Regions from separate parts of the Homo sapiens genome. Here regions 2 and 3 are each linked to region 1. The links come from fine-mapping of genetic effects on gene expression. A gene starts in region 1. Each other region holds a variant in brackets. All regions are shown on one strand. Distances are between the middles of the regions.

What was found. PIP is the estimated chance that this variant, and not a neighbour inherited with it, causes the effect.
Region 2: its variant is fine-mapped to the expression of H2AJ in whole blood (TOPMed, PIP 0.96).
Region 3: its variant is fine-mapped to the expression of H2AJ in cerebellar hemisphere (GTEx, PIP 0.92).

Annotation. Positions count from the first base shown.
Region 1 is chr12:14,772,672-14,776,917 of GRCh38, forward strand. H2AJ (H2A.J histone) reads left to right here and starts at 1,734. Exons shown (of 1, transcript NM_177925.5): 1 at 1,734-2,353. The coding sequence starts at 1,800. The coding sequence ends at 2,189. RefSeq lists enhancers at 1,154-2,071, 1,285-1,494, 1,685-2,014, 2,025-2,184, 2,072-2,988 and 1 more.
Region 2 is chr12:14,736,416-14,740,661 of GRCh38, forward strand. The region is part of intron 2 of LOC105369669; the gene reads right to left. Among named protein-coding and RNA genes, the nearest start is that of H4C16, 33 kb to the right of the region's middle. The variant C/T (reference allele first, on the strand shown) is at 2,391.
Region 3 is chr12:14,746,083-14,750,328 of GRCh38, forward strand. The region is part of intron 2 of LOC105369669; the gene reads right to left. Among named protein-coding and RNA genes, the nearest start is that of H4C16, 23 kb to the right of the region's middle. The variant C/T (reference allele first, on the strand shown) is at 2,303.

The sequences.
Region 1 (4,246 bases):
GCTTGCAGTGAGCCGAGATCGCGCCACTGCACTCCAGCCTGGGCGACAGAGCGAGACTCCGTCTCAAAAAAAAAAAAAAAAAATTATTGTAATGGTAAAATCGGTTGACTTACTTATAGTTAAGCTTTCTAAGAAATCAAGACTAGAACATTTTCAAATTAGAAATCTCTTGCTTATTGGAATAAAAGAAAAAAAATCGTGTCTAAAATAGTAATACTTTTAAAAACTCTTGAAAATTCCCCAAGATACAGGCAAAAATTTAAGCTAGTTTACAGAACTCATTCCAGGAACATCTCGTTAAAAACTGCATCAGAGATTTGTATGCCCATTTATTTGGTATATCTAAGAGTTATTGGATGCTTACTAACGTATTTAATTTTCAAAACACTTTGATACAGGTAGAGGAGTCAAATAACTTATCAAAGGTCACTGCTCAGTGGTAAAGCCAGGATTTAGGCTGAGGCAGACTGGCTCCGGAAAGACCGCCTAAACCATGACAATAGCTCTGAAGACATTTATTGAGTCCCCAGTATGGGTTCATCATTGTTCTAGGCAGTAATGACATATACATAAATATTTGAAAATGTTATTTCAATGAAGTCAAATCTTTATTCGGATAGTGAGAAGGTAAATTTGCTTTACTTTAAATGTAAATGAATCCACATAAAATGTTTATTTTAAAAAGCAAGCGTTCAACATTACATCACGTATCGGTGTTAACTGTGTTACTGAAAATGTTCAGGTAAAAATGAAATGACCTCGATGAATTAGGAGAAAGTAATTTTTAATTAAAACAAAACACTTGAAACACTCTTTTTGTTTCAAAAAGCATGGGTCCACAATTCAGGTATATAAGAATAAGCTGCCATTCTGACTTTAGTCTCTGGACTCATTTACAAAGAGACCCGGGGGACCTCCACGTCTTCGCAGAGGACCCGATCCGCTGATCTGTGGCGCCCTGGCTTGCGGGGAGCAAGCCAAGGCCAAGACTTTGGCCTCTCCAATAAAACCTAGTGGCTCTTTGCAGGCCCATAGCCTCAAAGACAAAAGATATTTTGGCTAGGCGAGCTTGTTCCTCCCGTCAGCACAGGAAGCATTCACGTCTGGTCATCACTCTAGCTTCAGACTCAAAAGTGAACGATTGGCTGGCTGTGAGCCGCAGGACCCTGCGGGGAGACCAGGGTGGTCTCTACACTGTTGGGTAGCTAGCTGGAGGCAAGGCGCTTGTATAAGAAACAGTCCACGGACCCTGTCCTGGGCAGGCAGAATTCCGCGGACAGGCTGTTGTTTCGCCTAAGCAGCACGGGCTGCGGAGACAGAAACCTACCTGAGTAGTACGGTGTATTATATGAGAACATCCACTTAGCATAGCAACGTCTACGGACAACCCCTGTAGCTCTTCTTCTGGATTGTTTTCTGTTTCCAACCATGTTTTCTTATTTCCTACGAGTTTATGTGCTTGGAAGCGAGCGTGGTCGTGGAAAACCCGTAACCGCTAAATTCATCTGGGTCCCCAAAGACTGAGCCGGCTGGCCTCGTTATTTATGTGAGCGGCTATGTAAATGAGGATTCGGAGATTGCTCTATTGATTGGAGAGAGCTGGAGGAGGCGGTCTCTCTTCCAGAGCGCTAGTTGGGAGCGGAGCCTGCCTGTCATTGGTCACCAGAGCCAATGGAAAGGGGCTGCCGCGCGGCCGTAAAGAGTTTGTAGAGGCAGTTCGGGTGCGGTACGTTGCATTCCGGTACCGGACGCCGAGAGCGGTTTGTCTCCGTCTCTGGAGTTGTAGGCGAGAGGTGATCATGTCCGGTCGCGGGAAACAGGGCGGCAAAGTGCGAGCAAAGGCCAAATCCCGCTCCTCCCGCGCGGGCCTGCAGTTCCCGGTGGGCCGAGTGCACAGACTGCTGCGCAAAGGGAACTACGCGGAGCGAGTGGGCGCCGGGGCGCCGGTGTACCTGGCGGCGGTGTTGGAGTACCTTACGGCGGAGATCCTGGAGCTGGCTGGCAACGCCGCGCGTGACAACAAGAAGACCAGGATAATTCCCCGCCACCTGCAGCTCGCCATCCGCAACGACGAGGAGTTAAACAAGCTGCTGGGCAAAGTGACCATCGCTCAGGGCGGCGTCCTGCCCAACATCCAGGCCGTGCTGCTGCCCAAGAAGACGGAGAGTCAGAAGACGAAGAGCAAATGACCCTGACGCCGCCCTCAGGGAGCTGGCTCCCCCAGCAAAGGCCCTTTTCATGGTCGTCCCGCAATGCTTTTGAATGTGCTGGATGTCATGGAGGGCCGGTGACATCTAGCGGGGAGGTGGGCGGCGAGGGTCCCGGCGGGAGCCAATAAAGTTGGTGAAAATCGTTTGGTCGAGAGAGCTGTGTAGTCGCGGGGACATGTCGGATGGCCCCAGGGGAGGGGGGCGACCGGGAAACCCCTGGAGCAGGCACTGGTGGGTGGGCTTGAGCCACTCTGGACGGCTTTAGTCCGCAGGTCACCCTCGAGGCGTCAGGGGAGGGTGGCCTGGAGGTGGGCAGGGTGGAAGCCACCTCGCTGTCAGTAGGGCAAAGGGGAGGCAGAGTCGGTGCGGTGAGGCCTCCTTCGGAATTATTTTTACTTCCCTTTCACAGAGCCTTCGCTCTCCTGCCAGTTTGTGAGCACTCAGGACCAAGTTCTGGGAAGATACCGTCGGATCGAGCTGAGCTCGGGGCAGGAAGTGTCTGCGGCCATATTTTTCAAAAAGTGGAGTAACTTTCCGTCTTGGAAGGGTGGCTCTGATGGCACGATGTCAACTTGAGATTCTTCCTAGCCTAGTAGCTGCTGTGCTTTCATGCTTTGGATATCAGATATCTTTATATAGCACTTTTATGTTCATATTTTTTTTTTAATGAAGGAAACGTTCAATAAGTGAGTCATGAGGTTGGAAATTCGTTCCCCTGACAGTCATATTGCATAACATTGCAGCGCCTTTAGTCGTGGGTTACATATGCTTGAGCTTTTAAAGTGATGTTGTCAAGTTTCTAGCTTCATAATGATCCTGTCTTCATCATATCATATTCACTTTGAGAATCGGTTTGACTTTGCTTTCAAACAAAACAAAAACCTCTTGCTTTTAGGGGTTCTTACCCAACAAATAACCTGTTTGAACTCTCTTATATTCTCCCACTAGCCTGAAGCAATGACCTCATTCCAGTAATGTCTTTGGGAGTTGCATTGCCTAATGGCACAATATTGCTTTAATAAACATGTAAGGAAAGATAGGACCAAATATGTAAGTGCAGGGGGAAACACATTTCAGACCAGGAATCCACATTGAAAAGTTAACACTAGTAATCATCTTCTGCCCTTAATTGACACTCCTATTTATTTCATCCTCAGCAAATTTCATCCTGGCTCACAGACCCCACAAAAAAGATCCCAGTACAGATTTCACATCTTTGGATTCATCTTTCCTGTGAGTCGGAATTGAAGTCTTCCCCAAAAATATATGTATATATTGTATGTCTTCATCCTTGGTAGCGGCTGGCCCATTTTCCCACATGGACTTTATTTTGTCCCCAGTATTTATTGAACAGCTGTCTATGCCAGGCTCTGTACAAAGTGATAGGAGTAGAGCTGTGAATGAGGCCAACCAGATTTCCACTCTCTCGGAGCTCACTTTATTTTTATTGGTTCCTGAAGACGGGACAAGGAACAAATACATACGTTAATATGAGAGATCAGCTTCTGTTAGTACTTGTACCTCTCTGCTGTGTGTGGATGAATGATGGAATTACTTCTCCCATGTTGCCATTTTTGAGGTGTACAAAGGTCAGGCCGTACACACCTCTGTTAGGAGGCAAATTATTGGGCAGGTTCGAGATGTTCTGCTATTTACTCTGTGGTTTTGTCATATGTAAAAGTCATAACACCTGTTTTAAGGATTGAGATTGTTCATTTACTGTGTGCCACATATTAGACAATAAATGGAAAAAAGTACCATGTTCAATGGGGGTATGGGTTTATCCTTATAGGTTAAATTATAGGTAAACATTAATAGGACTTTTTAAAAAATGCCTCATTGTTAGAACTACTACTCACAGTTACCACTTGGGGTCAGTGGAACAAAATGCATATATGGTTTTGACATTTGAGTCTAAATTTCTTAAAGGGATGAGGCATCTGAGGGATTGTTACCAAAATGATGAAGAAATAAGGACAAGGGACATCAAGACATTCATAAGAAAAAGCACCTTTGCCTTCCCCTGGGAAGATTCA
Region 2 (4,246 bases), 36 kb before region 1:
GCAACCCCTGCCAGGTGCGGTGGCTCACACCTGTAATCCCAGTACTTTGGGAGGCTGAGACAGGTGGATCACCTGAGGTCAGGAGTTCCAGACCAGCCTGACCAACATGGTGAAACCCTGTCTCTACTAAAAATACAAAGTTAGCCGGGCATGGTGGCGCATGCCTGTAATCCCAGCTACGCGGAAGGCTGCGGCAGGATAATTACTTGAACCCAGAGGGCAGAGGTTGCAGTGAGCCGAGATTGCGCCATTGCACTCCAGGCTGGGCAACAAGAGTGAAACTCTGTCTCAAAAAAAAAAAAAAATTGCAACCCCTTCCCCCACCCTGTCTGACTGTACTGTATTTAGAGCTATTTGGCACATGCGCGTGCGCGCGCGCACGCACGCGCACACACACACACACACACACACACACACATATCTGATTTTTTTCTGTTTATTCCCAGTTGAATGTTATGTCCATGACAGCAGGGATTTTTACCTATTGTGTCTGCTGGTGTAGTCCCAGTAACTAAATTGGTGATGGCACAAAAATGGAAAGACAGTTATTTTTAAAGAGATGTTATTATTTATTTATTTTTTCTTTTTTTTAAATTTTACTTTAAGTTCTGGGATACATGTGCAGAACGTGCAGGTTTGTTACATAGGTATACATTTGCCATGGCGTTTAGCTGCCCTTATTTACTTTTTTTAAGATAGTAAGGCTGACTTGATTGGAGGAGGCCATGGCAGCAGCTATAGGAGCCATTGCAGTGGGGTCTTGCAGTGTGGGAGAGAGCTTGGACTCAAGTCCTTTAAAGAGATTTCAGAATAGGATAAAGAAACTGTGGCTCAGAGTGATCCTTAGATTTGTGTAAGTTCACATAAATAACAGTCATGGAAATTGCAATGAAAAGCTCTGTAATTCCATGTCTAATTCTCCCTGCCTCATAGAATGCAGCCCTTCTAACTTCATTATGTTCTAATCTTGGAATGTAGACTACCTCTCAGGGTTGGTGAAAACAAAAAGGATAAGCATGCCATGATCCTTCTAGAACTCAAAACTTGGATTCGTACCTGGGATTTAATGTGGTACCATTTTCAAATAAATCTCCAACTAGAATTATAGCTTCATTTGTTTATTCGTGGCAACAATTTCTTTGGTTGGTGACTGAAGCAAATTTTTCTGAAAAGCCCAAATCCACCATATACCAGGGATCTGCCTCTCATTGGTTTTTGAATATATGTAATTTTTTCTAATACAATGGCTTTCTCAAGTGATCTGGATTGATTGAAGGTGATAGACTGAGTTATATGTTTCCTGTGAGACAACATTAGAGATAATATTGAAATATTAACTACATTAACTATGCAGTTGTAGCAATAATTAATGACCAACAGGAAATTAAAATACCTTGCAAACAGTTTACAGATAACAATAAAAAGGAAATTTTGTAGGCTTCTGGGTAATCATTACATTATTCTCATATTTATAAACTGTTTTTCCAAATAGATATTTTTAAGAAGTTAACAAAGTACTGTGAGTATATGTGCCAAATCAAATAGAACAAAATTTTTACGATGTTTGCCCTCCTCAGTTCTGCTCCACATAGGCAATTTTAAGGTCTTTTGTAAGTTGAAAATATAAATGTCCTTCATCACTGCTTCTATGGGTTCTTTACATCTTTCACTCTAACGATATGCAACTTATATTGCAATTTTGCAAAAACAAAGGAAAAAACGTCTACCATGTGGCTAGCGTAAGTAGCTAGATTCTGCTATCCATTCTGCATGTAGCCATCTGCCTTGTGGGTATAATTGCAATGATCTACATTTCTCACATTGTTAGAGTTAGAAGTATGTGAAAAAGGTAAGTTTTATGGCTGACAAAATTGGATAGAGTTGATATATGTAACTTACATCTAGGGCTGGCACTACACATTAATTTTTTAATTCTAGAAAAAGATGTAGTATATAATAATATGTATCAACTGCTTGGGTGATTTTGACTGAATTAATTGTTGTAAGCAAATTACTGGTAAATGTTATTAAATGCCCATTTTACCTGCAAGAAATGAGTTTCATTTTAGCAAGCTGAAAGACCAACTTGATGAATATATTAAATATTCACTTGAGAATAGTGTATTTCCATATAGCTAGATTATACAAATGTTAAGAACGCTGTCTGCAGTTAATTCTTCAAACTATAAGTGGAAATAAGAACTACTGCTGAATGGGCATAAAATGATATGAAAGCTTAATGAGTTGTTAACTTGATATTTTTAACACTTAAAATTTCAACCCTTACCTGGAATTTGTCTTGCCACTCTGAGCAAGTGAGTACCCAATTAAAATCGCAAGTGTCTTTATTTGTCCATGAATACATTCTCTTCAGTTGGTGACTGACACAA[C/T]ATTCATAGTCCATTTGGAACCCAAATCCATCATCCACCAATGTTCAGTTTCTTCTGGGGTTTGACTAGACAGGCTTTTATCAAAGTCACTCACTAGAGAGCCATCACTTGCTCTGTCAGAAGACATCAAAGGATCACGGAGACTGGACTGGGTGGATGTTTTCCCGTGAGATTATATTGGACATGAAATGCAAAAATAAGTGATAGCCAAAGTGAGCTAGCATATACTTTCTCAAAGTAATCAAAACTGGGCCAAAACCTTTACTGGTTGGTTTCCAAAAATCACTTGGCTTCTCCCATTCCTTGGACCTTTATTCCTCATCATTCTTCTTTTACTATTTGGTCCCTGCCTTTTTACCACTCTCATTAAGTTTATATCTTCTAGATTATAATGATTTCACCTATAGATGACCTTGCAAGCCCAATACCAGCCTGCAACAGCAACTTCCATTTACATGGGGCCTCTTGATGGAATCTGGTCCCCCACCATTCCTTCCACCCTGGCCCATGGACAAGTTTTTCATGACCCTTCATTTCCTTCATGCAGAAGTAGCCAGACAGATTTGATGCTCCCCTTCACCGTGCTGTTTTCCCTTTCTGGAGACCCTAATAGGCAGCAGGTAGACAGGAGCATGAGGGTATACAAAGGGTCAAAGATTTGACCAAGATATTTATTAGGGGAAAATGAGGAGAGCAAAGACCACCTGGTGGTGGCCATTAAGCAGACCATCCAGAGGCAAAACTCCTTCTCTGAGGAATTTAGAAGTAATTACATGTCCCTATTATCTAAAGCTGGCATTGAGTACCTGACTTCTTTCCCAAAAATTTATAAGTAACAAAAATTTCTATACATCTCTGGAATGCACACATGTCGAAACTCGTTGTGCAACCCTTGCTGACATCAAGGCACCAAAATGTCTACAAATGTAATTATTTATTATGGCCTAGGTGGGTAATATGGCCCAAATTACCCTTAAGCTCCCTCTTCAAGGTCCATAAATGCCCCTAAGGAAAAATACATCGTGGTGTGCTCAGTCCTCTCTTGCTGAAGTGCCCCACTGCACTCTGCTGCAGTGTTCTTTCTATCTAATAAAACTTTCCCTTTCAAACCTATACTGCTGTGGGTAAATTCTTCTTTCTACCTCCGAGCCTACCACCTTCCATTGCCGGGGCTCTGACACCTTGCGAAACAAATATAAAGAAGCTTTTATCAAAAAAAGCTTGGGAATCAATCACAGCATTATGCAAATTGGCCATAAAAGCTGCAAGAAAAATTTGAAGAATCCTGTTTTGATATTGGTAAATTTCGAGTTGATTTTCAATTTATGCAATACTTCTTTGAAATCAATGTTAATAATACCAATTTAACACAACAGTTAGTGAATTTACTTAACCTGGATGGAACTAGTTTTGAATCTTATATGTTTTTACTTCAAAGTTAGATCAATTCTTTAAAATGATAAACAAGTTTTGTCAATATAAATGTCCATAGTAAAGAAAAAAAATTTTTTTTGTACTTGATTCAACTATTGAAACATTCTAAAGTATGTTTGAAATAACTTGGATATGTGAAACATTTTCAACTGTAAACTTTATGAAATCCAGTAAATTGAAAAGTCTCCTGATTGAGATGTATGTGTAAAATACACACTAGATTTCAAAAGCTTAGTGCAATAAAAGAATGTATAATGCCTCAAATTTTTGTTTTTGTTTTTGTGACAATCTCACTCTGTCACCCAGGCTGGAGTGCAGTAGTGCAGTCTTGGCTCACTGCAACCTCCGCCTCTGGGGTTCAAGCAATTCTTGTGCCTCAGCCTCCCGAGTAGCTGGAATTACAGGCATGTGCCACCACACTC
Region 3 (4,246 bases), 27 kb before region 1:
AAGCCTGGGAGCGCTATGGGAGACTGGGGCTTATTTCATCCCTACAGTTTTGACCATAGAAGACGGCCACACCCAAGGGGGCCATTTTAGAGGCCGACCCTCAGGGGTGCATTCTCTTTCTCAGGGATGTTCCTTGCTGAGAAAAAGAATTCAGCGATGATATTTCTCCCATTTGCTTTTGAAAGAAGAGAAATATGGCTGTGTTCCTCCCGGCTCACCAGTAGTCAGAGTTTAAGGTTATCTCTCTTGTTCCCTGAACATTGCTGTTATCCTGTTCTTTTTTCAAGGTGCCCAGATTTCATATTGTTCAAACACACATGCTCTAAAATTTGTGCAGTTAATGCAATCATCACAGGGTCCTGAGGCGACATACATCCTCCTCAGTTTACGAGATGACAGGATTAAGAGATTAAAGTAAAGACAGGCATAGGAAATCACAAGGGTATTGATTGGGGAAGTGATAAGTGTCCATGAAATCTTCACAATTTATGTTTAGAGATTGCAGTAAAGACAGGCGTAAGAAATTATAAAAGTATTAATTTGGGGAACTAATAAATGTCCATGAAATCTTCACAATCCACGTTCTTCTGCCATGGCTTCAGCCGGTCCCTCCGTTCAGGGTCCCTGACTTTCCGCAACAATGAAGCATTGAAAAAAGAAATCTAAGCAGCCCCAAAGATATGAGATAATATTGCAACCCTGAAACAAGAAAAACTATGTGTTTATTTAAAAAGCAATATTCAAAGAGCAAAACAACATCTCACAAAAAAATAAAAAGCCATTAAAAAATTCCATTAGGATGAAAGATAAAGCTTAAGAAACTTCCAATAGTACAGCAAAAAATGCAGAGAATGAATAAAATATAATAATAAATAATAGATTTCTATTAAGAGGGAAGAAAGGAAACAGAGAAAATTATCAAATAAATAATAAGAAATAACAGGCCTACTAAGTACCCTGCACAACAAATGAAGACCTACACCAAACAATGAAGCATTTCAAAGCGCAGCTAGAAAGATACAATTCTAAAAGCTTTTAGACGTAAAAAGTCAAATACATGGGATTAGAAATCAGAATGTCTTTAAATTTCTCAATAGCTTGATGGAAACTAGCTGATATGGTTTAGACCTTTATCCCCTCTAAATCTCATGTTGAACTGTAATCCCCAATGTTGGAGGTGGGGCCTGGTGGGAGATGTTTGGGTCGTGTGGGTGGATCCCTCATGAATAGTTTGGTGCTGTCCCTGCAGTAATCAATTCAGGTAAGATCTGGTTGTTTAAAAGGGTGTGGCACTTCCCCTGTCTCTCTTGCTCTCTCTCTCCCCCTGTGATGTGCTTGCTTCCCTTTGCCTTCTGCCATGATTGAAAGCTTCTTGAGGGCCTCACCAGAAGCAGATACCAACACTATGCTTCCTGTACAGTCTGCGAAACCATGAGGCAATGAAACGTCTTTTCTTTATAAATTACGCAGTCTCAAGTATTGCTTTATAGTGATGCATATGGACTAACACACTAGCAGACAATAGAAAAATGTTTTCAAATTCAAAGGAAAAATGATGTTTTATACTCAAAGTATCAGTCAATTGTAAGAGGAGAATAAAAATTCTTTCAGACATGCAAGTTCTGAAAGACCTAGAGACCAACCCATACAGACTGAATCAGAAGGCTTCAGAAAAAAATTAAACATTTTTCACTTCTGTAGGGGGAATTAAAGGATCAACCATGATCGATAATTTTTAACTCCAGGGAAAACAAAAATTTTTACAAGAAATTTAATCATAAAATATATGGCTCAGTTATGAATAATATTCATGTAGTTATAATAATATAAATACTTGAATACTGATTTAACCAAAAACTGAAATAGACTTGACGGATGGGGGTTGGAAAAGTTCATGAGTAGGTAGAAGGGAGGGATATGTAAGAGAGATAATTTTTCCTCCTTCGTGGTAGGAAGTTTATAGATGAAACCCAAAACTAAAAAGTTTAGATGTAGCAGTTGTTACATGTTATTTAGAAATATAGTGATAATTACCAGAAGAAAAAGCTGGTTGATATCTGGAGAGCAGAAACTGGGTGTAGGGATAGGTGCAGCATTTTTGTCATTCGTTATACACTTTGTAAAACAATTGGATTTTTAAGACTAAATACATGTTTTATTTTGATTAAAAAAATCAAGATTAAATTATAAAAAGAGGCCAGGTGCGGTGGCTCACGCCTGTAATCCTAGCACTTTGGGAGGCCGAGGCAGGTGGATCATGAGGTCAGGAGATCGAGACCATCCTGGCTAACACGGTGAAACC[C/T]CATCTCTACTAAAAATACAAAAAGTTAGCCAGGCATGGTGGCAGTCTCAGCTACTCGGGAGGCTGAGGCAGAATGGTGTGAACCCGGGAGGTGGAGCTTGCAGTGAGCTGAGACTGCGCCACTGCACTCCAGCCTGGGTGACACAGTGAGACTCGTCTCAAAAAAAAAAAAAAAAAAAGAAAGAAGCACTAAGATTAAATGGAGAATTTCTTGTGAGAGTGTGTTGAGTTCACATATTCCCACTAATCTCCAAGACTCCTAACAAAAAATAAAAAATAAACGTAAAGATAAACAACAATTTACAAAGAGCTAAAAACCAAATAGCCAGAAAATGTTGGTAATTGAAAACACGGGTCTGATGCTTTCAAAAGAGGTTTAGGTAAGAAACATAAATTCGAGCATCATCTTTAGTTAGGTGGTAAATTAATACATTAATTTGAATAAACTCATTTTAGGATAAATAATGAGTGAGGAGAGAATGAGCCTTCCTGCTAGAAACAGACTGAAGATCCAGAAACTCAAATTTTAGGGTGCGGTGTGGTGGGTGGGCAGGTGACATGATCCATTAATGCCCACCATCTGGGGAGAAACTAGGAACGGAACTTAAATGGGGGCCCTCACACCTCCGAAGCAATGGCTTAAAACAAAGTATAATCCCTGCTGGGAAGTGTGGCCTGTATCAAGCTGCTGCTCAGAGTGGGAAGAGAGAAGACTGGCAGCCTCCATACCAGGACCAGGGCCATGCCAACCTTTGCTAGGTGCACAAGAGCCCAAAGAGCATTAAATATAAGCTATCAATTTAAGCCTGGAACGGAGCTGAGAAGTCCAGTCAGTCATGTGGACACAATCTTTAAGTAATCAGAGACACAGTAAAATTAAAGAGTATATGGAGCCCCGACCCAGAATGCCATAGAGAGAGAAGATGCAAAACCAAGTGGCTGGGTCATGAGCGATTGACCCAGGTACTTTGGTAAGGGGTTAATAGTGCGGACCCTGGAGCTACATTATAATAATTTAAATCTTGAATCCATTGTTTACTGACAGTATGATGCTAGCTATTTTTACTTATCAGCCAATGTTCTTAGCTTTCTCATCCGTAAAACAGGTGGAAACACAGCACCTGTTTCATAGAATTTTTGTGAATCACCCTTTAAAAAGAGTAAGCACTCAGAAAATATTAACTATAAGTATACTTATGCATACTGTTTATACTATTAATAATTATTTTGTTATGTTAGTATTTTATGAGTTCCAGAAGTAAAAAATGAAGAAAATTAAAAACAAGCAATATTTAAAAAGAAAGTGGCCGCGAATTTTCCCAAATCGAAACCCACATATCTTTTTTTTTTTTTTTTTTTGAGATAGAGTCTCACTCTGTTGCCCAGGCTGGAGTGCAGTGGTGTGATCTCGGCTCACTGCAACCTGCCTCCCGGGTTCAAGCAATTCTCTGCCTCACCTCCCAAGTAGCTGGGATTACAGGCACCTGCCACCATGCCTGGCTAATTTTTTTGTATTTTTAGTAGAGATGGAGTTTCACCATGTTGGCCAGGCTGGTTTTGCACTCCTGACCTCGTGATCCACCAGCCTCGGCCTCCCAAAGTGCTGGATTACAAGCGTGAGCCACCGCGCCTGGCCAAACCCACATATCTTTAAGTGTACTAGAGGCAAAACACCTCAAAGACTGAGAGTCTGATGGAAAGCATGCTACTTTTTCATGCTACGATAACAGTTGCCATAATTAAATAGTTCCAAAGTGCTAAGAGAAAATTTCCCTCAATCTAGAATTTCATAAATAGCTAAACTAACATTAAAAAATAAAGACCAAATATAGACATTTTCAAACATACAAAGATAAAGTTTGCAACCCACACATTCTTGCTAAAAGAAATACTAAAGGGCCCTGGTTCAGAAAGATGTCAAGTGAGTCCAGGAGAGGGAACAGG